Linked DNA regions of Homo sapiens. The protein of the gene in region 3 interacts with the protein of the main gene of each other region in a biochemical or structural test. Each region holds a gene or a part of one and is shown on either strand. Other genes may lie near its edges.

Region 1 (7,032 bases), on a different chromosome or scaffold from region 3:
ATGGGTGCACACTCTTCATAAACTTTTTTTTTTTTGAGACAGGGTCTCGCTCTTTTGCCCATGCTGTAGTCCAGTGGCATGATCTCAGCTCACTGCAAACTCTGCCTCTCAGGTTCAAGAGATTCTCCAGCTCCCAAGTAGCTGGGATTACAGTCATGCACCGCCACGCCTGGTTAAATTTTGTATTTTTAGTAGAGATGGCCATGTTGGCCAGGCTGGTCTCGAACTCCTGAGCTCAGGTGATCTGCCCACCTCAGCCTCTCAAAAGTGCTGGGATTACAGGGCATGAACCACCATGCCCGGCCTTCATCAATTTTTTAAAAACGACTTTATTGAGGTATACTTTATGTATCACAAAATTTACCCATTTTTAGTATATCATTCAATGATTTTTAGTTAACTTTTTGAGTTGTGTGACAATTACTAGCTGTCGAACATTTTTATCACACAGTGAGATCCCTTATACTTCTTTAGTCAGTTCCTGTTCCTGCTCCCAGCCCCGGGCAGCTGTGGATCTGTATGTGTGTGTGTATATATATATATATATATATATATTTTTTTTTTTTTTTTTTTTTTTTTTTTTTTGAGACGGAGTCTTGCTCTGTCGCCCAGGCTGGAGTGCAGTGGTGCGATCTTGGCTCACTGCAAGCTCCGCCTCCCAGGTTCAAACAGTTCTGCCTCAGCCTCCCGAGTAGCTGGGATTACAGGCACCTGCCACCACGCCCGGCTAATTTTTTTGTATTTTTAGTAGAGATGGGGTTTCACCATGTTAGCCAGGATGGTCTCGATCTCCTGACCTTGTGATCTGCCCACCTCGGCCTCCCAACGTTCTGGAATTACAGGCGTGAGCCACCGCGCCCGGCTGGATCTGTATTTTTATAAATTAAAATAGGGTCCATTGGTTCACAGCTGATTGGAATCTGCTTGGTTCCATGTCAACAGCCAGACGACAGTAAGGTTTCCTCTTATTACCCACCTGATTCCCTGTCGATGGACACCTAGGTTGTTTTATCTTTATAAACTGCTGCAGTGGACACTGAGGCCGGTTTTTTTCTTTGTTTTTTTTTTTTTGTTTGTTTGTTTTTGAGACAGAGTCTTGCTCTGTCACCCAGGCTGGAGTGCAGTGGCGCGATCTCGGCTCACTGCAAACTCCGCCTCCCGGGTTCACACCATTCTCCTGCCTCAGCCTCCCGAGTAGCTTGGGACTATAGGTGCGTGCCACCATGCCTGGCTAATTTTTTGTATTTTTAGTAGAGACGGGGTTTCACCGTGTTAGCCAGGATGGTCTCGATCTCCTGACCTCATGATCTGCCCGCCTCGGCCTCCCAAAGTGCTGGGATTACAGGCGTGAGCCACTGTGCCTGGCCACTGAGGCCAGTCTTTGCCCGGATCCTCACTGTGTTCCTAGGATGAGGTTCTGGGAGGGGAATTGCTGGTCAGAGGTCGAGCCTGCTTTTGAAGCTTCTTCTACCAGGAGTGGAGCTGAGCAGGTTTGATAAGGTCTGAAGATTTGGGGGTGGAAATGCCAGGTCCCTTGAGAGACATGAGGGATAAGAGGGGGCCAGGCTGGCCTTGAGTGCCAGAGTGCAGAGCTGGGCTAGATGTGAGGACAGTCGGGGGTCAGAGCAGGGGCACACCGAGCTTCAGTTCCCTCTGGCTGCTTGGATGGAGGATCGTAATGTGAACAGAAAACACTAATTGAGTACTTACTGTGTTTCAGACAGTGTGTTGATAATCCCACTTAATCCCCTGACAACCCCAAGTAGGTAGACATATGATGAAGATGACGGCCTTGAGGACCAGAGAGGTTAAGTGATTTGCCTGAGATCACACAGCCAGATGATGGCAAAGCCAGAATTCAAACCCAGGCTGTGGGCTCCAGAGCCTAGCTCTTAAGCTCTTAAGCACTGGGCTCCTAAGAATGGGGATGAGGGGTTGAGGGAGGCTCCTCCACAGGGGCTACTCTGGGGGCCTGGAAGTGGGTCACAGAGGGGTCAGAGGCTATGTGGCTACCTCCCCATCCCAGTCCAGAGCAGTGTTTGAGTCATTAGACTGGGAACCAGCCCTGGTGAGCCAGCCAAGGGCCTTGGGCCCCATCCGGTCCTGCTGCCTGCCACAGCCAAACTCTTGTCATGTGAATGGATTTGGGGATGGAGCTGCCTCCATGAGTCCTTGCATCTGTGGGTGAAGGCACTGCCCTGGCTATAGTGTCCCTGGGTTTGAGTCCTGCATCTGCACCAAGACCTCAGGTGAGCCTGTCTCCTTCTGGGCCTCAGAGTACCTTGCAGCTGTCGGGGGAGGATGGATCAGGAGATGGCCCTGTACCTGTGTTGGGGATTATTGTTAAGCCCGTGGCAGTCTTCACCTCCCTGCTGAGGATTAATTTATCCAATTTTGCACAAGCTTATGAGTGCAGAAGAGGCAGACGGAAACAGAGTTCTGGCCAAGAGCCTGGAACAGGGCCTCGGGGTCTCTTTCCTATGCCTGGACCCCGTCATGTCTGCTCTTTGTCTGTCGGACCCCAGATGTCTGCCAAGCCCCGTCAGAGGCTGCTTCCCAGAAAGCCCTTCTGGGTGTCACCTTGCCCCGAGCAGTGCGTTCTCAGAGTTCTCCCGCCCTGATGTCCCTCCCAGCATGCCCAGCCCAGCCACAACAGGGCCTTGCTTCTAGTCATGTGTCTGGCTGTTTGCTGGGTCCAGGCCAGCCCTGGTAGGGCACAATGGGGGCCCGCTCTGCCACCCCATACCTCTCCCCAGGATATCTCATGCCCCAGTTCTCTCCCTAGTTCCACCAAGCACTGGCACTCCTTAGAAAACACAGCTCTAGACTAGTTACTGCCCTAGCTTACAGCACAGAACTCCCCTGGTCTCCAACCATTCATGGCTCCCTAGTGCTCCAAGATAAAGTTCCCTTGTCTCAGCCGGGTTGGGAGTTACCTTCTGCCCAACATTCACCTAGCTGGACACAAACATCCTGAGTGACCCGGTCAGCTCCAGGCAGGAGTCACTGCCAGCAGAGGCCTGGGATCTGGACTTTGCCTGCTGACAGGTGGAGCCCAGGCCGGCCAGAGGAAGTGCCTCTGACCTTGTCTCCTAGCAGCCACGGGCCATGTGGACATGCCTTTTGACCCTGGGCACTGACAGTGTGTGACAGCCTGCACCATGTGCTCCACAGGGGCGGCTGTGTGTGTCGGGGGTGAGGTGGGGAAAGCCTTAACTGGCTCAGGGGTGAGAGGTCAGGGAGCCATTGAGACTGGCTCCAGGTGTGGGTCCCCTGCTGGGTTGGGGCTTGTGGGAGGTGGGACGGGGCTGGGGGTCCATCCCCCTAGGGGGAATTTGTGGCCTACCCCGAACCCTGTTTGAGCTCCTTTCCTAACTGACTCCCCGTCCCTGCACCTGTCTCCCAGCAGGCCTTGCCTCTGCATGCTGCCCCTGCCAGGCTCTGGGGTCCCTGTGCTCCCTGCAGCTAGAAGGCTGGGATCAGGGGTCTTAACAAGCAGCCCTACTGTATGACCTTGGACAAGTCCAAGAACCTTCAGGTTCTTAACAATGTAAAGGGAGCAGTACTAAAAGCAGCTTCTTGGAATTGTGGGGATCCGATGAGTGAAGGCTTAAGCAGTGCATGGCACATAGTAGGCCCTGAACCAATGCCAGTTAGTGTTATTATTATCACCATTTAGCCAGATGCAGTGGCTCACGCCTATAATCTTATTGACTTTAGAGGCTGAGGTTGGAGGATTGCTTGAGACCAGGAGTTCAAGACCAGCCTGGGCAACATAGCAAGGCCCTGTTTGTTTTAGAGAAAACAAACAAATCACCATTTAGAGCACCTAACCAGTACCTGGCACGCGATAGGTTTAGCTCAACAAATGTTAGCAGCAATTACCCAAGGAGCCTGTGCTGGAAGTTTCTAGGATGTACCAGGCTATGGTTCCAAGTTCTGAGCATCTACCATGTGGTGGTCTGGAGTTGGTGAGAGACAGGATGGGGCTGACTAGGCCAGTGGGGAGCACCCCCCGCCATGGGGAACAAGCACCCTATCCTTGGCTTCCATGGAAGATAATTGATGCTGGGCACAGTGGCTCACGCCTGTAATCCCAGCACTTTGGGAGGCTGAGGCAGGGGGATCGCTTGAGTCTGGGAGTTCAAGACCAGCCTGGGCAACATTGTGAGACCCAAACTAAAAAAATTAGCTTGGCATGGTGGAGTGTGCCTGTCGTCCCAGCTACTCAGGAGGCTGAGGCTAAAGCTGGAGGATTGCTTGAGCCCAGGAGGTTGAGGCTGCAGTGAGCCATGATCATACCACTACACTCCAGCCTGGGCAACATAGTGAGGCCCTGTCTCAAAACAAACAAACAAAAAGAACCTGCTGAGGAAGCAGTGTTTCTGGCTGGGGGAGGACGGGCAGAGTGGCCATCTGGCCACAGATGGCGGTTTCTGTGCAAAACACATCAAGGCAGCCTTGGAAATGTGAGTGAAAGCACCTTCAAAGTTCTGGTCACAGCCTTGGGACTAAGCAAAGCCACCAAAAGTACATAAAAGACAATGACCATCACCCAGTGCCGGTGATGCTAGAAGGAAAGGGAATACGTTGTAGGGAAGGTTGTAAAGGGCTTTATCTTTTCCAGACTGGAGCCTGGCAGCTCGAAAACATCTTGCTGCCTTCATATGAGCTTTAAAACAAGCTGCAGAGAAACAACTCAAGAGGGAGAAATATATATATATATGTGTGTGTGTGTGTATGTGTGAGTGTGTGTGTGTGTGTGTATACATATATATATATATATATATATATATATATTTTTTTTTTTTTTTAAGATGGAGTCTCGTTCTGTCACCAGGCTGGAGTGCAGTGGTACAATCTCGGCTCACTGCAACCTCCGCCTCCTGGGTTCAAATGATTCTCCTGCGTCAGCCTCCCAAGCAGCTGGGACTATAGGCACATACCACCACGCCCAGCTAATTTTTGTATTTTTAGTAGAGGCTGGATTTCACCATGTTGGCCAGGATGGTTTTGATCTCCTGACCTCGTGATCTGCCTGCCTTAGCCTCCCAAAGTGTTGGGATTACAGGCGTGAGCCAGTTTGTTTTTAGAGACGGGGTCTTGCTCTGTCACCCAGGCTGGAATACCATGGCACAATCACAGCTCGCTGCAATGTTGAACTCCCGGGTTCAAGGGATCCTCCCACCTCAGCCTCCAGAGTAATGGAGACTACAGGCTCATGCCACCATGCCCAGCTATTTTTAAAACTTTGTAGAGATGGGGCCTTGCTACATTGCCCAGGCTGGTCTTGAACTCCTGGGCTCAAGTGATCTGCCTGCCTTTGCCTCCCAAAGTGCTGTTATTACAGGTGTGAGCCCCTGCGCCTAACCTTAGCACTGCCATTTTGACTGAAAACAGGTGCCCAGCAGCAGGGGCTACTCCCAGAATTGCCACTGCATCAGGCCCGTGGGTTGTTTTCAGCTGCCAGTGATAAGTATGTGCCCTGGGCCACCTCTCGGACAAGGTGTCTGAATTGGTGCCGACCAGCATCACATGTAATTGCCATCTCGCAGGTGCTGCTGAGGGTAATTCCGCACACCTGTAGCTCCGGGAAGAGCCTAGTGGGGAGGAGGAAACGTGGCTCTGAGGTTTATAGGGTCAGACGGTCAGTATGTTGGGAGCTGGCATGTGGAGGGGCACAGACAAGGGAAGAATGGGAGGTGGCATCAGAGCAAGTTTTGATGGAGGAATAGGAATTCACCAGGTGGAAAGGGCATTCCTGGTGGAGGGAACAGCCTGGCCTTCAATAGCTTGTGGTGTTCAGAAAGCAGGCAGGGAAAGGGAGGCCCAGGGAGACACCAGTTAGGGGATGGGGGTGGAGGCAGACGAGGGTGGAGGAAGCCATGGCTGGAGTCTGCACGGCCTCTGACTGGGGTCCCTGCTGTGGTCAGCCCTGTGCTGGGTGAGGCTGGGGTCACAGCTGGTTCAGGCCCTGACAGGAGGGGCCCCCAGCTGAGGCCCAGCCTCTAATTTGGCAGGGCAGGTGGATAGGTCTGGGGGGGTGGTGGTTAGGAAGCCTCCAGGAGGAGGCAGTGCCGGAGCTGAGCCTTAAAGAGCTTCGTGTTGTCCTCTCTGTCTTTGCACTCTGCACACACTCACTGAACTGCGACAAATGAGGATAGCTGGTCAGGGCAGAGGCAGGCCGGAGTTGGGGCTCACTGCTGTCCCCCACAGGCTGGGGCTGAAGGGCAGGCTCTGGGGCCGCAGAATGGGGTTTGTGTACCAGATTCTTCATATGGCAGCTGTGGGACTTTGGGCACGAGGCCTCCGTCTGAGCCTTAGTTTCCTCAAGAGGACCTGCGCCCAGGTGCACCTGGGGCTCCAGCCATGGGTGCGTCCCATTCCGGGAAGAGCTGGCACACACTTGTGCCCCCGGGGCAGCCATGAGTGCACAAAGGGCAGCCTGTGCCACTGCTGGATACACGACCAGCTGAGAACACGAGGACCGCCGACTCCAGTTAGGAGGATCAAGGAAGTGCCTGGTGGGAGCAGAACAGCAGGTGGGGTGCAGCCCAGCTCCCTGGAGGGATGGTGGGCACCCATCCTCACCCTGCTGCCTCCATTAGCAGGCCGAGAGGGTGTGCTCTGGAATCCCATGAGCACCTGTGCCACATCCTCCCCTGTGGCTGACCCTTCTTCACAGTTGGTGCAGCTTTGTGGTCTGTAGTGCAGGGATCAATTGGCAAATCCCTTTCCCACCCATTCCCTGGAGAATTGGGGTCCTTGGCTCAGATGACAGACCAACCTGAGTTGGAATCCCAGCTCCTTGGTGGCCGTCCTGGCCTCCACCCCCTCACTGCCTCCGCTCCTCCTATCCTGCCCACGCCCACTGCAGGGCCTTTGCACACACTGTTTCTTCTGCCCTCCCTTCCGGCCCACTCCCTCATATCATTCAGTCCTCCTTTCAGATGTCACCTCCTAAGATGGGCTGCCCTGACCACCTCATCTATAATGGCCCCAGTGCCTGGCACAGGATTGGCACACAGTAGA
Region 2 (3,996 bases), on a different chromosome or scaffold from region 3:
AACCTTTCCATCATTGTAGAAAATTCTATCAGACAGCATTGCTCCGGCCACCTGCCAGGTGGTCCTCCGGGAGTGCTGGTGCGGAGTGCTGGTGCCGAGTGCTCAGAGTGGGTTCGGGTTCAGTCCCTGAACCCAAGCATCCTCTGCACCCAGATCCTGCGGATCTGCACGCGGTACACGCCCGAGCAGGACACCATGACCTTCTCGGACGGGCTGACCCTGAACCGGACCCAGATGCACAACGCTGGCTTCGGCCCCCTCACCGACCTGGTCTTTGCCTTCGCCAACCAGCTGCTGCCCCTGGAGATGGATGATGCGGAGACGGGGCTGCTCAGCGCCATCTGCCTCATCTGCGGAGGTGGGCAGGGGGCCTGGGTCTGGGGGCTGGGCTGGGACGGGGGTGCAGCCCTGGAGTCTCTTCCAGGGAGCTCTTTCAGGCCACCTCTGTTAGGTATCTCTAGAGGGCAGGGTCTGGTCTGCAACTACACAGCAAGGGGGCCATGTGGGGCCTGGACTCCTGTTCCCGATTTCTGGGCAACACCCCTTCTAGGGAGGTTAAGAGTGAGGGTTTGAGGGTCGGACCAACCAGGGTCACCTCCTGGCCGATGCATGACCCTGAGCAGGTTGCTGAACTTCTCTGGGCCTCCGTTTCTGTACAGTGGGGGCGGTAACGGTCTCTAGCTCATGAAGTTGATGGGAGGATTACGGTGGTAACAGATACTGTGCAGGTGCCCAGAGCGAGCTCCAGTGCTTGTTAGTTGCTATTTTATTGTTGTGATTTCTGCCATTTCATCTGGTTTCCAGAATAACAGGGGGGAGTGGGAGCCTGCCTGGGAACCCTCTCCCTGCTTGAGGATGGCACTGCCCATTTGGGGTCCCATCCCACTAACTGGGCTCAGGGAGGGTTTGGGGCACCCCCTCACCCTCAGCTCCCGTTGCTCCCTTTTAAGGGCCTCTGTACCCTGCGGCAGCAGAGACCCCATGCCCTGCCCTGTGTGGGGAGGCGCCTGCGAGCTGCCCTCCTCCATGGCCTGGGCAGGCACGCCCCCCGGTGGCCGAGGCTGGGGGTGCAGCTGTGTTCCCAGCTGCTCAGGGGGTGGTTCTGCTTCCTCAGACCGCCAGGACCTGGAGCAGCCGGACCGGGTGGACATGCTGCAGGAGCCGCTGCTGGAGGCGCTAAAGGTCTACGTGCGGAAGCGGAGGCCCAGCCGCCCCCACATGTTCCCCAAGATGCTAATGAAGATTACTGACCTGCGAAGCATCAGCGCCAAGGGTGAGGCTCACAGACCTGGAGGGGTACCGGCCCCCGACACCTGGCCCAGGCCCCCACATCCAAGCCAGCACCCCATGTCTTTGTGCCAGGACAATACGACACCTGTCCCCATCTGTGTCTAGGCTGAGGTCCCCTAGTGACTCCACTTTGCCGAGGTGGCCCGCCTGTGTCACCTTTGTGTGGTAGTTCAGATCGTGGCTCTGGAACCAGACACGTGGGTGTGTGTCCTTGTGTGGGTCACTCAACAGCTCCTAGCTACAGTTTCCCTTCCGAGGGCGGGGATAACATTCGTGTTTACAGAGGGGTCGGGATGATCCCTAGCACACAGCACAGGGGAAGGAAGGGCTTGGCGTCTAGCCCAGGCCGGCAGTCTGGCCCTGGAGCCGGAGTTCGGGACCACTTTGCCCCATTGCCACCAGCCTCTGGACCTGGGGGCTTAAGAGAGCTGGCTCGTGTCAAAGAACTGAATCCCAAGAAAGATGCTAATATCAGCAGTATTGATCTTCCCACCTCGAGCCAGGCTTGCTGGGGCTGGGGGTGGGAGGGCTGGCCCAGCGTGCTGACCTCTGCCCCCTCCTTTCCTGCAGGGGCTGAGCGGGTGATCACGCTGAAGATGGAGATCCCGGGCTCCATGCCGCCTCTCATCCAGGAAATGTTGGAGAACTCAGAGGGCCTGGACACTCTGAGCGGACAGCCGGGGGGTGGGGGGCGGGACGGGGGTGGCCTGGCCCCCCCGCCAGGCAGCTGTAGCCCCAGCCTCAGCCCCAGCTCCAACAGAAGCAGCCCGGCCACCCACTCCCCGTGACCGCCCACGCCACATGGACACAGCCCTCGCCCTCCGCCCCGGCTTTTCTCTGCCTTTCTACCGACCATGTGACCCCGCACCAGCCCTGCCCCCACCTGCCCTCCCGGGCAGTACTGGGGACCTTCCCTGGGGGACGGGGAGGGAGGAGGCAGCGACTCCTTGGACAGAGGCCTGGGCCCTCAGTGGACTGCCTGCTCCCACAGCCTGGGCTGACGTCAGAGGCCGAGGCCAGGAACTGAGTGAGGCCCCTGGTCCTGGGTCTCAGGATGGGTCCTGGGGGCCTCGTGTTCATCAAGACACCCCTCTGCCCAGCTCACCACATCTTCATCACCAGCAAACGCCAGGACTTGGCTCCCCCATCCTCAGAACTCACAAGCCATTGCTCCCCAGCTGGGGAACCTCAACCTCCCCCCTGCCTCGGTTGGTGACAGAGGGGGTGGGACAGGGGCGGGGGGTTCCCCCTGTACATACCCTGCCATACCAACCCCAGGTATTAATTCTCGCTGGTTTTGTTTTTATTTTAATTTTTTTGTTTTGATTTTTTTAATAAGAATTTTCATTTTAAGCACATTTATACTGAAGGAATTTGTGCTGTGTATTGGGGGGAGCTGGATCCAGAGCTGGAGGGGGTGGGTCCGGGGGAGGGAGTGGCTCGGAAGGGGCCCCCACTCTCCTTTCATGTCCCTGTGCCCCCCAGTTCTCCTCCTCAGCCTTTTCCTCCTCAGTTTTCTCTTTAAAACTGTGAAGTACTAACTTTCCAAGGCCTGCCTTCCCCTCCCTCCCACTGGAGAAGCCGCCAGCCCCTTTCTCCCTCTGCCTGACCACTGGGTGTGGACGGTGTGGGGCAGCCCTGAAAGGACAGGCTCCTGGCCTTGGCACTTGCCTGCACCCACCATGAGGCATGGAGCAGGGCAGAGCAAGGGCCCCGGGACAGAGTTTTCCCAGACCTGGCTCCTCGGCAGAGCTGCCTCCCGTCAGGGCCCACATCATCTAGGCTCCCCAGCCCCCACTGTGAAGGGGCTGGCCAGGGGCCCGAGCTGCCCCCACCCCCGGCCTCAGCCACCAGCACCCCCATAGGGCCCCCAGACACCACACACATGCGCGTGCGCACACACACAAACACACACACACTGGACAGTAGATGGGCCGACACACACTTGGCCCGAGTTCCTCCATTTCCCTGGCCTGCCCCCCACCCCCAACCTGTCCCACCCCCGTGCCCCCTCCTTACCCCGCAGGACGGGCCTACAGGGGGGTCTCCCCTCACCCCTGCACCCCCAGCTGGGGGAGCTGGCTCTGCCCCGACCTCCTTCACCAGGGGTTGGGGCCCCTTCCCCTGGAGCCCGTGGGTGCACCTGTTACTGTTGGGCTTTCCACTGAGATCTACTGGATAAAGAATAAAGTTCTATTTATTCTACACATGCCTCCAGCCTTGCTGCCTCCACCCCCTCCTCTTGGCGTCTGGTCTGGGGGCTTGGGATGGGTTTCGTCATGTGCTCTGGGCCTGTGATGGCCAGGAATGAGCACTGGGGCCAAGGGGCTGGCCAGGGCACCCTTCCAAGCTGCCTTCTGAGGCTTACCTTGTGCTGGGGTCTTTGGAGATGCTGAGAAGGAGAAAGTCCTGCCCCTTGGGAAGCCCTCAGTCTGGGGATCCACACTGCCCATGTCAAGGAGCCCCAGTCTGGGAGTGGGAGAGAAGAGGAGGAAAGCTGCCCCCACCTTCAGGGAACCCCCAGTCTGAGGGAGGAAGCCGGAGCCACCCCTAGACATTTCTGGTCCTTGGGAAGCCTTCACCATCACGGCAGGAATGACAGATGGCACAGGAGCTGGGGTCAGGGACTCATAGAAACCTAACAAGAGGCCTGGCGCAGTGGCTCATGCCTGTAATTCCAGCACTTTGGGAGGCTGAGGTGGGCGG
Region 3 (7,032 bases):
TCGGGTGCAGTGGCTCATGCTTGTAATCCCAGCACTTTGGGAGGACGAGGTGGGTCGATCATTTGAGGTCAGAAGTGAGACCAGCCTGGCCAACATGGCAAAACCCCGTCTCTCTTAAAAATACAAAAATTAGCCTGGCATGGTGGCATATGCCTTTAATCTCAGCTGCTTGGGAGGCTGAGGCAGGAGAATTATTTGAACTCGGGAGGTGGAGGTTGTAGTGAGCTGAGATCATGCCACTTCACTCCAGGCTGGGCAACAGAACAAGACTCCATCTCAAATAAATAAAATGGAATCATTTTATTTGACAAATGTCTATTTTTTTTTGAAAGGATCAATTCCCATTTAGTGTATATACACACATTATGTTTTTCCTCTTAATATATGATGGACTCTTCAATGTCAAGTGTTTTTCTACATAGATATTATAACAAGAGCATAGTATTTCATTGTTTCATAGTATGTTAATAAACTACCCATCATTGACAGTTGCTGTTTATCCATAGCTTTTCTGTTTTGTTTTTTTTTTAATAATTCTGAAATGTATTCTTAGAGGTATGGAAATGTTGACTATTTCTAACTTGGGCTTACTCTTTGCTTCTCTACCTCAACCAAAATCTGAAAATATGTAGGTAGTTCCTCGATGTCCTAGGTGCCCAGCTGATGAACCGCTTGCTATCATGAAACCAGAGATTGTGTTTTTTGGTGAAAATTTACCAGAACAGTTTCATAGAGCCATGAAGTATGACAAAGATGAAGTTGACCTCCTCATTGTTATTGGGTCTTCCCTCAAAGTAAGACCAGTAGCACTAATTCCAAGTAAGTTGGTGATGGTTTTTGGAGAACATTTCTATATATAATGTCATGGGTTGTGGGTCTGTATAATAGACGCTAGTAATCTTAACTCTGCTTCTGTTTGAAAGAGTGGTGAAGAGCTAATTTTAGAAATTGTTTGTTTGTTTGTTTATTGAGATGGAGTTTCCCTCTTGTTGCCCAGGCTGGAGTGCAGTCGCATATCTTGGCTCACTGCAACCTCCGCCTCCCGGGTTCAAGCGATTCTTCTGCCTCAGCCTTCTGAGTAGCTGGGATCACAGGCGTCCACCAACATGCCTGGCTAGTTTTTGTATTTTTAGTATAGACCGGGTTTCACCATGTTGGCCAGGCTGGTCTCGAACTCCTCAGCTCAGGTGATCCGCCTGTCTCTGCCTTCTAAAGTGCTGGGATTACAGGCATGAGCCCCCATGCCTGGCCAGAAATTCTTTATTTTTAGTAGAGATGAGGTCTTGTTGTGTTGCCCAGGCTGGATTCGAACTCCTGGGCTCAAGTGATCCTCCTGCCTCAGCCCCTTGAGTAGCTAGGATTACAGGCACGAGCCTCCACATCTGGCTGAACTGTTTTTTTAGGTGGCATTGTTCATTGAGACTGGTGAATCTGACATTTTGATGGGGGGTGGAGGGTTGTCAAAACGCAAGTAATGTTGGTGGCTCGTGCCTGTAATCTCAGCACTTTGGGAGGCCGAGGTAGGTGGATCGCTTGAGGGCAGCAGTTTGAGACCAGCCTGGCCAACATGGTGAAACCCTGTCTCTACTAAAAATACAAAAATTAGCTGGGCATAGTGGTGTGCACATGTAGTCCCAGCTACTTGGGAGGTTGGGGCATGAGAATCGCTTGAACTCAGGAGGCAGAGGTTGCAATGAGCCGAGAATGTGCCACTGCACTCCAGCCTGGGTGACAGAGTGGGACTCTGTCTCAAAAAATCAAAAACAAACCCAGAAGTAATGCTAAACTCTACTTCTAATTTATGTGAAAAATTAAGACAAAGGTAGAGTTCAACTTAGACTTTTTGGTGGAATGTGTTTTTAATGTTGCAAGGGTTAGCATCAATTAATTTATGAAATGGTCCTTTATCCTTATATTTTTTGATTACAGTTTTGATCTTTCAAATTTAATTGATTTCACATTTAATAAATTCAAATGTATAGTTTGGTAGAAGTGTAACATACCATGTAAGATGGAATTTGGGGGCTCAGAATGATTGGTTCATTCTTGTAGTAACAGCCATGCCATAACGGTGATATGTCGATATAGTTTACCCAAAAGGGTGTGTATATAAAAGTGTTCACATAAAATTTAAATCCTTATTACTCTCAGGAAAATTTCTTTGTCATATATATTCTCATACTGTCTGTTTCCTCCTCTAGTTTAGAATCAGAGGAGGAGAGAGAGAGATTTCAGTTGCATCAGATGTGTCCTTTCATAAGTGAGGGAAAGAGGAGAGGAAAAATATTAAATCCCTAGCCAGAGAATTGAATTAGACCCCACATCAGCAGTCAAGGCAGCCAGAGTAAACAGTTGGAAGAAACATGGAGTCAAGCTCTTCAATTTTGTGTCTATCCCATATCTCGTGGCTTTAGCAGTTAACTCAGTCTTACCTAATTAGCTGTGAAATTCTGTTAAAGTAGAATACAAGACAATTTGCAATTAAATGAAACATGAAAATTTAATATACAAATCTCTTTGTTCTTGAGTTGCTCTTCTTAAAGCAAAATCAAAGGCACTCTGCTTAAAAGCTTTTCTTTTTATTTTTTAGAGACGGGTGTCTTGCTGTAGCTCAGGCTAGAGTGCAGTGGTGCAGTTTCAGCTCACTGCAGCCTTCAACTCCTGGGGACAAGCAGTCCTTCCACTTCAGCTTCCTGAGTAGTTAGGACCAGAGGCGCACACCATGCTTGGCAAATTTTTAAATTTTTTTTTGTAGAAACGGGATTCACTTTGTTGCCCAGGCTGGTCACAAACTCCTGGCCTCAAGTGATCCTTCCTCCTCTGCCTCTCAAAGCATTAGGATTACAGGCATGAGCTACCATGCCTGGTCCTTAAAAACTTTTCTTTCAAAAGCTTTCTGTGGGATAGTATGATGTGTTGCAAAGATAATTAAAAAAAGAAACAGGTTTATAATAGCGTAGAATATGTTTATATGACTTTTTCCCTCCCCCCCTCCCCTCCCTCCCTCCCTTCCGTTTGTCCTTCCTTCCATTCATCCTTCCTTCTGTTAGTCCTTCCTTCTGTCCATCCTTCCCGTCCGTTCTTCCTTCCTTCCTTCGTCCATCCTTCTGTCTGTCCTTCCTTCCGTTCATCTGTCCGTCCTTCCTTCCTCCCACCCTCCCTCCCTCCCTCCTATCCTCCCTCCCTCCCTCATTGCCCAGGCTGGAGTGCAATGGCATGATCTCGGCTCACTGCAGTCTCCCGTGTTCAAGCAGTTCTCCTCCCAAGTAGTTGGGATTAGAGGCATGCGCTACCACACGCCCGGCTAATTTTGTGTTTTTAGTAGAGATGGGGTTTCACCATGTTGGTCGGGTTGGTCTTGAACTCCTGACCTCAGGTGATCCGCCTGCCTCGGCCTCCCAAAGTGCTGGGATTACAGGCGTGAGCCACTGTACCCAGCTCACCTTCTTTATATCAGGAGCTACTTAAGTAGAACATTTATGTACCAAGAACTCTTCTGTGCACTTGACTAACTCATTTAATCCTCACCACAGTCTTGTGGAGAAGTACTATTATCATCCCCATTCTGCAGACAAGGAAATTTGAGGTTCAGAGTGGGAAAGTCTGGGAAGATTGCTCAGGGGTAACCAGGTGATAGGAGCAGAACTTGAGCGTTTTATAAAAGACACTTAACTGCCCATCTGCTTGCTTGATGAAATGTAATGGCTTGGTTAAGTATTTAGTGCATGGGTCTTTTTTGGGAATTTGGAGCTCAAGCCCTTGTTGGATTTTTGCATAATGTATCTGTTGTGGTTTTATTAGCTTACTTCCTCCTCCCTTTTTCTAACTCTTATTTTTCACCCTATTTTAGGTTCCATACCCCATGAAGTGCCTCAGATATTAATTAATAGAGAACCTTTGCCTCATCTGCATTTTGATGTAGAGCTTCTTGGAGACTGTGATGTCATAATTAATGAATTGTGTCATAGGTTAGGTGGTGAATATGCCAAACTTTGCTGTAACCCTGTAAAGCTTTCAGAAATTACTGAAAAACCTCCACGAACACAAAAAGAATTGGCTTATTTGTCAGAGTTGCCACCCACACCTCTTCATGTTTCAGAAGACTCAAGTTCACCAGAAAGAACTTCACCACCAGATTCTTCAGTGATTGTCACACTTTTAGACCAAGCAGCTAAGAGTAATGATGATTTAGATGTGTCTGAATCAAAAGGTTGTATGGAAGAAAAACCACAGGAAGTACAAACTTCTAGGAATGTTGAAAGTATTGCTGAACAGATGGAAAATCCGGATTTGAAGAATGTTGGTTCTAGTACTGGGGAGAAAAATGAAAGAACTTCAGTGGCTGGAACAGTGAGAAAATGCTGGCCTAATAGAGTGGCAAAGGAGCAGATTAGTAGGCGGCTTGATGGTAAGAAAGGCAGTCGGACCATTTTGAAAGTATAAATGTCATAACAGTATTTCCAAAAAATTAGCTATTTCGGCAGGTTAATCGATAGGGTAGCTTTATGTAGTTGATTCTGTTTAGAGAAACTGTACAGTTCGTAATCAGAAAGGTAAATCTTCTGGTATCTTAACATGATATGGAGAAGGAAGTGTTTAATAGTGCTCTGTATGTTGTGTTTCTCTAGGGGATGGAAAAATAAGAATGGGTTATTAGCTGGCAGAAATGATGACAGATTTGAGTGCTTACTGTAGGTCAGCTGCTTTACATATGTTACCTGATTTTAATCTGAGGTAGGAACTATTACTCTTCTTCAGGTGGGAAAACTCAGGACCATAGAGGTTAAATACCTCATGCACAGTAACTACTAAGAAGTGGAAGAACCAGATTAAAATCCAGTCTATTTATGCTTAGAGCCTGCCCCCTTAACTACTATGCGGTGTTGTCTCAGATGTAGAACACATCTTTGTTTTCTCTGAGGACTTAGAAAAAACACGCGTGATTCTTCTCCACTGAATATAGGAATAGTTTCTACCCTGTTTAGAACATGCATAGTCTTTATCAATAAGTGTTAACTGACATGTGAAATCACTTTCTACTCTTTGGAAGCCGATGTTTTAAGTCCAAGTAGTCTGTATGGTGGAAATTCCTAACTTATGTTAAAAAAAAGAAAACCACTGTAACTTAGCTATAACAGTCTTATATAACTTAGAACTTTAAGTCTCATTCCATTTACCATACTTGGCGAAAACTGACAAATTTTAGACAACTGTATTTGAGTATTCCAGTCATTTGCTGTAAATACATTTTAGTTCAGTTGAATAAACCTTTGGCCTTTTTCATATTAGGCACTGTGGTAAGTTATGGAGACACAGTGATTAATGTTGTGTATAATTATAAATGTGAGTGATACTCATTAATACTTTGGTATAGGTGCTGCTGAAGAACAAAGTACTTTATTATTGTTTTGAACAAAACATCACACAAAAGGTAGATTTTTTTTTTTTTTTTTTTTTTTTTTTTTTGTGACGGAGTCTCACTCTGTCGCCCAGGCTGGAGTGCAGTGGCACGATCTCAGCTCACTGCAACCTCTGCGTCCCAGGTTCAAGAGATTCTCCTGCCTCAGCCTTCTGAGTAGCTGAAATTACAGGCATGCGCCACCTTGCTCGGCTGATTCTTGTATTTTTAGTAGAGACGGGGTTTCGCCATGTTGGTCAGGCTGGTCTCAAACTCCTGACCCCATGATCCATCCACCTCGGCCTCCCAAAGTGCTGGAATTACAGGCGTGAGCCACGGCGCCCAGCCCCAAAAGGTAGATTCTACTTGGAGATTAGATTACAGAAGGCTTTCTAAGGAGCAAAATATTTAACAATAAGTAGGGATTTAAAAAGAGCAGACGTGTTCACAGGGGAAACTAGAAAAAGCATAGAGGGATGCTTACGTTTGCAAATCGTGGCAGAAGTCAGAAAGTAGAAAAATTGCTACTGACTTAGATACACAGTTGTCTCTAGCGTATACAAAGTCTACCTATGCACTAAGACTTGCACTGGGAACTTTTCTTGAATGTCATTTTGACAGATGTGTCAAACGGACAATCTCTTTGCCCAGGAAACAGAGTTAACCTGGAACAGTCATTTTTTTTTAAATTTATTTATTTTTTGAGACGGAGTTTTGCTCTTGTTGTCCAGGCTGAAGTACAATGGTGTGATCTCGGTTCACGGCAACCTCCGCCTCCCGGGTTCAAGCGATTCTCCTGCCTCACTCTCCAGAGTAGCTGTAGCTGAGACCACAGGCGCATGCCCTCATGCTCAGCTATTTTTTTTTTTTTTTTTTTTAGTTTTTGTAGAAACAAGGTCTTGCCACATTGCCCAGGCTGATACCAAACTCCTGGGCTCAAGCAGTCTGCCAGCCTTGGCCTCCCAAAGTGCTGGGATTACAGGTGTAAGCCACTGTGCCCTGCCTGTGGTGTCTTGGGAAACTCATGAGTACTATGTGTCTGTTGTAATAGAGGGAAATAAGTGGTTTTCACAGTGATTTGTAGTGGACTGTGAAATTTTAGGGATTCAGGTCAGAGTTGTCACACAGGTTGTAGTCAGGGTGAGAACTGGGTCATGATGCAGTATGAAAAAGTTCGAGAGCCACTTTGGAGAGAACTTGAGATAGGCCACCTACCAGTGTGGTAACCAGGCTTTTGAGAATTCGTCTGGGATACGGTACAATAAATACTACATCTATTATGTGTGAAGAGATGTTAAGTTAGGGACATACTGTGAATTCAAGGATAGAAAACTTTTCCATCAGTTTTTAGGGATCCTACTCTTTCACTTAAACCCCAAATGGCCAAGCTAGGATTGATTTGGTGTGCTGTAGAAAGAACTTCATTGGTATTCATGGATTCACATTACATCTTAGAGGAGTTTTCAAAAGCGTCTTAGACTGTATGTGTATATACACACACATTCTGAAGCAGTAGGTGGGTCTTGGGGCCTGAGATCTCGGGTGAATGTAAATTTAGGTTCACAGGTGATACTGTAGATTCACAGTGTCTACAGAGTACACTATGAATTTGTGGTGACTACATTATTGACAAA
Region 4 (7,882 bases), on a different chromosome or scaffold from region 3:
TGCATTCACTTCTCATGGCATTGCACAGGACTCCTTGGAGCTGTTCTGTTCTGTTCTGGAGCAGTCAAGATTTCTGAGATGCCATAGGCATCATGAGGCTAAAAGAACCCCCCAAACCTGGAAAATACTTGTGAGTGGTAATATATCAGTTGAGTAAAGGCCACAAAAGCAAACATTGGGTGGATACATTCTGCCTCAGTGACCTAACCCTGACCATGCACCCTTGGAGGTAGAATCACCAAAACCATCATGTATCCCCTGCAGGGTTCTGAGGGGGCTACTTGTAAGCCATTGATGGTCTCGCAAATGTATTTCTGTGAATCTCATGTTCCAGATTCTAAATGAGGGGGTCCTATGGTGAGAGGGACTTGTTCTGTCATTCAGAAAGGCAAGATTCCATCAACTCCCTGGATGGAGTCTTCTGTCAGTTGGCTACTCAAACAATAAAGTCCGCCTAGCCCATGATCTAGGGCAGGATTTTTTTTTTTTTTTTTTTTTGAGACAGGGTCTCACTCTGCCTCCCAGGCCTCAAGCATAGTGGCATGATCATAGCTCACTGCAGCCTTGACCTCCTAGGCTCAAGCGATCCTCCCACTTCAGCCTCTCAAGCAGCTTGGACTACAAGCGCACACCACAATGCCTGGATAATTTTTAAATTTTTTGTAGAGATAGGGTCTCACTATGTTGTCCAGGCTGGTCTCAAACTCCTGGCCTCAAAGTAATCCTTCCACCTCAACTTCCTAAAGTACTGGGATTACAGGCCTGAGCCACTGTGTAGGGTAGGATTTTTAATACTGTATTTTGGGTCACAACCCATTAATGGGCTGTGAAATAAATTTGGTGGATCCCAAAAGGAAAGGAAGGAAGGAAAGAAGGAAGGAAAAGAAAGGAAAGGAAGGAAGGAAGGAAGGGAAAAGCAAGGAAAGAAAGAAAGGAAGGAAGGCAGGAAGGAAGGAAGAAAGAAAGAGAGAAAGGAAGAAAAAGGAATGAAAGAGGGAAGGAGGGAGGGAGGAAGGAAGGAAAAGAGGATAGAGAAAATAATAGAAAACATTGTAGAACATCTTTTGTATCAGGAACTTATATATATTCCTGAGTAAACTAGGTCACAGTAAAAACTTATTTCTTATTATGGGTTGCAGTTAAAATTTTGAAAAATACTGTCCTGGGAAGACCCCTTGGTTTGCTTTCATTGCTACAGCTTCTTACATTTATTCATTCTATTTTTACCATCTGGAACATAAATAAGGAGAGTCATCCCTGATCCTTTTTGTCTTAACTTGGGTTAGGAAATATAAATGAATTAATCTTTCTGAACTTAACGTGTGTTTTTTAAAAAATCTCTAAAACAAGGGAACAAACTGAAAAGATGGCCTGGTCCCTTCTGTCTTTCTAACTCCACGCTCATGTCTCTCAGAATGTTCTCTGGGTGTTTACTGAAGAGAGGCTTCTCTTCAGTCCTACCGTGCTCATAACCATAAAATATTTAAGGGGGGAAAATGGCCCTAAAAAAGGGAAAAACAAACAGTCAGATGGGAGTGTTCCAGAGAGAGCTCAAAGGGCACATTTTTACCTGCAGAGCAGCCTTTAGACAGCTCAAAAAACCTCTGTCCATGGGGACAGGGTCTCTGGGAGACTCACAGGGACAAAGTGACCCACTCTAGCTCTGACACCACAGCAAGAAGTGCAGAGAGCATCAGCCAGCCTCGAGGACAGTGGCCAGGCTGCAGAAAAAGGAAGCCCAGAGATGAGGACAGGCTGCAGTCCTGTGGCCTGACTGTAGCCACAACTGCCCAGGCCATCCCCAGGTGCCTGGAGCCTGGCAGAGAGGTCAAGAGACCAGGCCCTGCCTTTCTTTGGACTCTGTGGAATGAAATGCACAGGAATGAAATGAATGAAACGAAATCCTCAGCCTAGTACCTCTGGAATCTTTCCATCAAAGTCAGATGCACCGGGAAGGGCTCTTTTGTTTCTATATAGATTTTTGAGTCTATAGCACTATAGCAGAGTATCTAGCACACCACCAGACTTGGCTAATATTAACCAAGCAAGTGCTTACGAGATATTCCCTGATGTAATTTGGCAGAGATGAGTACTGACAAAAAACAATCTGTACATCCCAATAAAGACCACTACCCATCCCAGGGATAAGTGAGAATATGAGAAATGTTAACTTCAGGGAAAAGAAAAATTAATGTCTTCTGCAGAGGTTCTGGTACCTGGTTTATGGAGAAGTCAAGATAGGGGAATTTAAAACTATTAACTCTGTAGTGCAGGAATGGTGCTTGTCATCGAGGCATCAAGAGAACACGGTGTGGGACAGCAACCTCCCTTTCCAGTTGTGTACCTGGCTAGGGAGAAGTAGGGTCCAGAGACAATTAGGGATTACAACAGAACACAGGAGAAGTGAATCTCATATGATGTTGCTTTTCTACTTTCACAAAATAACCTTCCTTCTAAGAATAAAACAGGCAAAAAAAAATCTATCTTTGTTCAATGTAAATACAAGATGGTTCATTAGCAGGTGCCAAACCATGCAATATAGAAAATGCATGCGCTACAAAGACCAGAGAATTGACAGTTCCTTTCCTGGAGATGTTGGAAAAGCCTGATGGAATAGGCAGGACCTGAAAGAGGAGAGGGTCTGGAGAGGTGGATGAGAGAGAACAGTTCAGGTATTGGGGGAATATGGGAAGAACATGGTTACAGACAAGGTGACGGGGCTGATGACGGCATGTGCTGGGGACCGTGATGACATCTATAATCTTGCCCATCTGCCAAACGCAGAACCTCTGAGTTCTTCAACTCTGTGAAAAGTGCATGCATGGAAATTTTTTTTTTGTTTTTTAGAGGCAGCATGAAACAGTGGGATGTGCAGAGAGAAGATCTGGGTCCAGTAGCTCTGACACTCCTCAGCTGTAGAAACCTTGACAACTCTGCACATCAGTTGTACAATGGAACGGTATTTTTTACTCTTCATGTCTGAAAAGGCTATGATAAAGATCAAGTAAGATATTCCAAAGAATTTTTAAATTATAAAGCAGTTTACACATGTGAATTACAAGTACCTCTCCTCCAACAAAGGCTGTGAAAAAAGACTAACTCTCAGTTACTACGGAATACTTAGTACGCATCTTCCACCATCTTTTGATAAGGTTTATTTGCAAGATGTCAGGCCAGTCAAGCACCACAAAAGTGACTTCTGAGTGTTCAACCTCTTTCAGAGGCTCATGGGACTTGCAGAGAATGTCCCAAGGTATTGGTGGTTGGAAATTTCCTCTTATGCTTTTCTTCCCACAAGAATCACCGCTAGCTTTCCCACGATGCTTTGGGCAAGGGGATCCTTCCTATTACTTTCATTACAGGTAGAGAATCCATCCATCAGACTGGCAGGACCTCTAAAGGGGCACTTCATCTGTTTCTCAGAATAAATGGTCCATTCCCAAGTTCAATCAAACGCTATGCCTCTCTTCTGTCTTTTGTTTAAGTCTTCCCAGAAAGTTGCCATGATACCTCCATAATGAACTGTTGCAGTGCTTAACAAACTTCACTGTTGGAAGGTTCTTCCTTCTATTTAATCTCAGTCTATTTCTTTTAACCCTATTATTGAGTTGTGAGGGGCTGGTTATGATGTAGTCCAGCATAGCTGTCTCAGAAATGGTTCAGAGACCATTGCACCAGCAGATTTGCTGGGCTCTAGCACTAGTCCTTCATTGATTAGCTGAGTCATGTTGGGCATATCACTTAAACTTTCTATGCCTCAATTTCCCACCCTTTCACCTTGTCCCTCTGAGCCATGGTTTCCTCCTCTGTAAGAGGCGAATAGCAATATCTTCCCTGGCTAAAGGAGGTCATCGACTGCTGGATGATTTTGTGAGCATTTCTATTCCAGAAGATTATGTTGTAATTACTATTTATTTATACATTCTCCCACTGCACAGTGAGTTCTAAGAAGAGGGAACCCCATCTTTTTCACCTGTCCTCTAGCAGATAGAGCGGTGCCTATCACACAGTCAAGGGAAGCAGAGAATAACTTTAAGCCAAAATTTCCTGTGGTGAGTTTTCCGCAGCCATCCACAATTCCAGGTCTCAGGAGGTAGTCTTTATCTTTTCCCCTCACGCCGATGCCACGGGGCGGGGGGGGAAGGCGGAACTCGGGACCAGGGACCAGGGAAGCTGAGACTCAGCTCCCTTGGGTGAGATTCGCGACAGGCCGGGAACGTGGTCAGCCGCGGTCGCTGCCAAGGTGATATCGGGTGGGAGCAATGACGCAACTCCGGTTTCCACTTCGGCCCCCCGGGATATTTTACCCTAATCTGTGGGATCAGGCTGAGCTTCCTGGCGTTCTGCAGCAGTAACAGGTTGGCGAGCGGAGCCCGGGATTTCCCATTCGTGCGGAGCTAGCCGCCGGTGCCAGTCGGCAGGCGCCCCCCAGCGTCCCGCGGACGACGAAGTCCTGGCCTGGTCAGCCCAGGTGGGGGTGACGCACCTGGCTCAGGCGTCCGCAGCAGGCTGGGTAGAACCACGGCAGGAAGGGTGGGGGGCTGCATCCCCGATTAACACAGGCTGAAGCGGGTATCCGCACCTATAATCATCGACAACTCTGTCCCACAGAGGGCAGAAGCGTGCCTTGCCCTATGGACGACGGTCGATGAAAATTTCACGAGTTAGAGTATCTAAGGCTACAGCGTGGCCTATAGGGTGGTTGATTCCAAGTCAAGATGGTTGCAGCGCCAACGGAGCTCCTGGCAAGAGAGGACTGGACCTGTGGGCGGGGCGGAGGGGCGGGGCGGGGCCGGGGCGGGGCCTGACCGAGAGGCGGGGCCAGGTGCTGGGCTGTCTCTGCTTGTCAAAAGGCGGCAGCGGAGCCGTGTGCGCCGGGAGCGCGGAACAGCTTGTCCACCCGCCGGCCGGACCAGGTGCGAACCCGGGAGCAGCGGGAAAGGGGGTCTCAGGATAGGGACTCGGGGTCGGGGCGTCTGGGATACCGGGGCCTGAGCGCCCGGCTGCGAGCATTAGAGTCTAAGTCTCAGCGGTAAACTTGGCTACTGAGGTCCGGGCTGTCGTGCCATGAGGCTGGGACACTAAGGGGCACTGAGGTTTGAGAAAGCTGAAGTTCGTGCCAGGCTGGCGAGGGGAGCAGCGACATCCTCGGCGCTTAGGAGAAATGCTCCGCTAACACAGTGCTTAGCACTTGGGCAACAAGAAGTATTTGTTTCCTTCTTCTGTCGGGGCGCCTTGGCATGGAGTGGAGGAATAAGAAAAGGAGCGATTGGCTGTCGATGGTGCTCAGAACTGCTGGAGTGGAGGGTGTGTAACCTTATTTATTGTCTTACAGGGCCCAGGTATGGTCACCTGTGATGGTGGAGTTGGGTCTTTTAAGTAATTTTTTTTTTTTTTTTTTTTTTTTTACTTTTCTTTGAACTACCAATGAGTTTAGACCTAATTGGCCCTATTTTTTTTCAGGACAGCCTGTCAATAGATGTTCAGAGGAACTCAGGGGCAAGCATTTAAATGAGGAAGGGGCTCAAGGAGTAGTTTCTGTTTGAAAAGTGAGGTGCCCTGGATCTGTGGGTGGTGGTGAGGAAGATTCAGAAGTATCTAGGAGGGAACAGCCTGTGGTCTCCAGGGCCAGTGTACAACTGCCCCTCCTTCTCTTCACCCAGGGACCAGAGTCTGAGACCTAGCCTGGGCTGGGGGAGCCTTAGGTCTCCAAGCCCAGACCCTTCTCACAGTTCCTCCTCCTTCTCCTCCTCCTCCTCCTCCTCCTCTTGTTCCTCCTCCTCCTCTATGCGTGCGGTGAGTGAGTCAGCCTCCTGTCTGGGCTCAGTTGCAGCCAAAGGGGCCAGAGCCCAGGCAAGCAGTTGGGCAGGCATTTTCTGAGCATTGCAGAAGCTCTCCTGGGCAGAGTTCAGCTCTGCTCCAGCTCCCTGCTGGAAGGTGGTCTTCCTCATGGGCAGGGGCTCAGATACCCAACACAGCAGTGCTTATGGAATGGCTATGAGATGATTCTAGCAGGAGGTGACCGTGAAGGGATAGTGGCTTTATGATAAATCTACATCTCATCTTTCTCCTGGGATAAGGAGGTGCATCCCAGCACTGCAGGCTTTTCCAGCCCTTCCTTCCATTTCTGCCTAGTGGTCTCATTAGCAGCCCATCTCTGCTAGTGAAGGGGGTGAGCAAAAGAAATTAGGAAAGTCTGGGGCCAGAGAAGTCATGGTGTTGGCAAAGAAGGCTTTAACTCAGGCTAGGGAGTGAGGGTGATTTGCTGAGGTAGAAATGGGTTATCTGAACATTGGAGCCTCAATTCTATGGACTAAGAGTGTTGTGTGTTGAGAGACCTGCCGTCCCTTCCCTGTCCAAGTGCTGGAGGGAACTGTGAGTCTTTCTGAAACAGTCTCAGGGCTGGCATGCAGCCAGACCAGAAGGTAGTAAGACTGCACATTTCTCCCTGGCTTTTGTTTTGGGTGCTAGAGATCGTTGAACAGAAGTAGCCCTCCCTGCAGAGTCCGTGGCCCCCACTCAGCAGCCTCTCTGGACCTATTTGAGAAGAGTCCTGGGAGGCCAATCCAGCTGTGGGGCTGACTCAAACTGCAAAAAGCTGGGGAATTCACAGTCTATGCTCTGGCTGGGTCCCATGGCTTTGGGTTTGGCTGGTCTTGATCAGCTGTGACTTGGACCCTTACCAAGCTAAAGGAGGGACTAGAAAATGGGGTAAGAAAGGAGGGGAAAAAATGAGAGTTAGAAAGCCTTCCCAACCCTTTACTCCTCTTCGGCAGAGGCCATCAGACTTTGTTTGTATAAACATTATGGAAGGTCGGGTGCTGTTTGGGGTGCCCTGATAGTTTGTGTTTATGGTTTCTCAGTATTCTTCCCCTATTTGACCTCAAAACTGATCTCTTTTGTAACTAAGCCCCAGAGGAAGCTCCGAGAGGACCTCCTGAACCCCTACACTCTACCCCCAGAACAGATAGCAGGTGTCCAAAGCCCAGGCTGTGAATGGAGAAAGGCCTGGGACCGAGTGGGCTACATCAGGTGGCTACTACATCAGGTGGTTATCTAAGACACGAAAGGGAGTTCCCATTGTTTCATTCCTTACCCCACATCCTAAGGAGGCACCGCTGTCCTGGCTGGAATAGGCATCTGGAACCTCTGCTAGAAACTCGCTGTTGCCTGTGCAGCAGTCAGGTCCTAGGGGCCAGAGAGCCAGAGACGGGAGGACCACCTAGATGACATTTGGTGTGTTGCTGAATAAAGAATTACAGGGCTCCAGCTTCCATTTGTCCCTGCTGCAATTCTGTTTTGGATGCAGGTAGAGGGAAATAAGGAATTGACCAGATTTGATTAAGAGCCTCTTGTGTGCCCAGCATGACTCCAGGCCCTCTGAGGGATAGCAGGAAGCAGAACCCACCAGACCAGGCCCCTGACTCCAAGACAGTTTGAGCCCCAGGGTGGGCAGCAGTTCTCAGGCTCTCCCTCCACTATTGTCCAGTTCTGAGAGGATCCAGCTGGGCTGAAGCCAGCCTGGCTGCCACTCTGGGCCACCAAGGCCTTGCTTGTCATTTTGCTTCCCTCTGATTTGTCCCTAACCTTTTCCTGTGTCAGTGCCCTCCTAGATATGCTAGAAAGAGTGCCTGTGTAATGTATCTTGCAAACTGGGATACTTCTGAGAGTGAAAGGGGATGCCATGCATGGTTATACCAGGACAATGGACATAAACCCAAACTTTCCAGGGAAAAATGGAATATTAATCACCCTAGTGATCATCACTCCAAACTCAGCAGAGGTCACAGCAGTGATGAGGGGATGATAAGGTTGGGGGAGGCTTAATGCTCAAGGGAAAACAGGGGTAGCTTAATTCTGAGGACAGCCCCCGACACCCTAG

What was found.
Region 1: of the proteins of SIRT1 (region 3) and SREBF1, one has a biochemical effect on the other in vitro, tested with the Homo sapiens proteins (2 studies listed by BioGRID, with this or other methods).
Region 2: the proteins of SIRT1 (region 3) and RARA form a complex in vitro, tested with the Homo sapiens proteins (one study listed by BioGRID and IntAct).
Region 4: the proteins of SIRT1 (region 3) and VDR form a complex in vitro, tested with the Homo sapiens proteins (one study listed by BioGRID).

What each region holds. Positions count from the first base shown.
Region 1 is NC_000017.11:17,826,974-17,834,005, reverse strand, and holds part of SREBF1 (sterol regulatory element-binding protein 1), read left to right. Parts: intron 1-7,032.
Region 2 is NC_000017.11:40,354,149-40,358,144, forward strand, and holds the end of RARA (retinoic acid receptor alpha), read left to right. Parts: intron 1-153; coding exon 154-358; intron 359-1,114; coding exon 1,115-1,273; intron 1,274-1,860; coding exon 1,861-2,078; 3' UTR 2,079-3,495; downstream 3,496-3,996. UniProt on the Homo sapiens protein: Receptor for retinoic acid. Retinoic acid receptors bind as heterodimers to their target response elements in response to their ligands, all-trans or 9-cis retinoic acid, and regulate gene expression in various biological processes.
Region 3 is NC_000010.11:67,908,624-67,915,655, forward strand, and holds part of SIRT1 (NAD-dependent protein deacetylase sirtuin-1), read left to right. Parts: intron 1-632; coding exon 633-819; intron 820-3,850; coding exon 3,851-4,408; intron 4,409-7,032. UniProt on the Homo sapiens protein: NAD-dependent protein deacetylase that links transcriptional regulation directly to intracellular energetics and participates in the coordination of several separated cellular functions such as cell cycle, response to DNA damage, metabolism, apoptosis and autophagy.
Region 4 is NC_000012.12:47,901,989-47,909,870, reverse strand, and holds the start of VDR (vitamin D3 receptor), read left to right. Parts: upstream 1-4,876; 5' UTR 4,877-4,916; exon of another isoform or gene 4,917-5,240; coding exon of another isoform or gene 5,241-5,307; intron 5,308-7,882.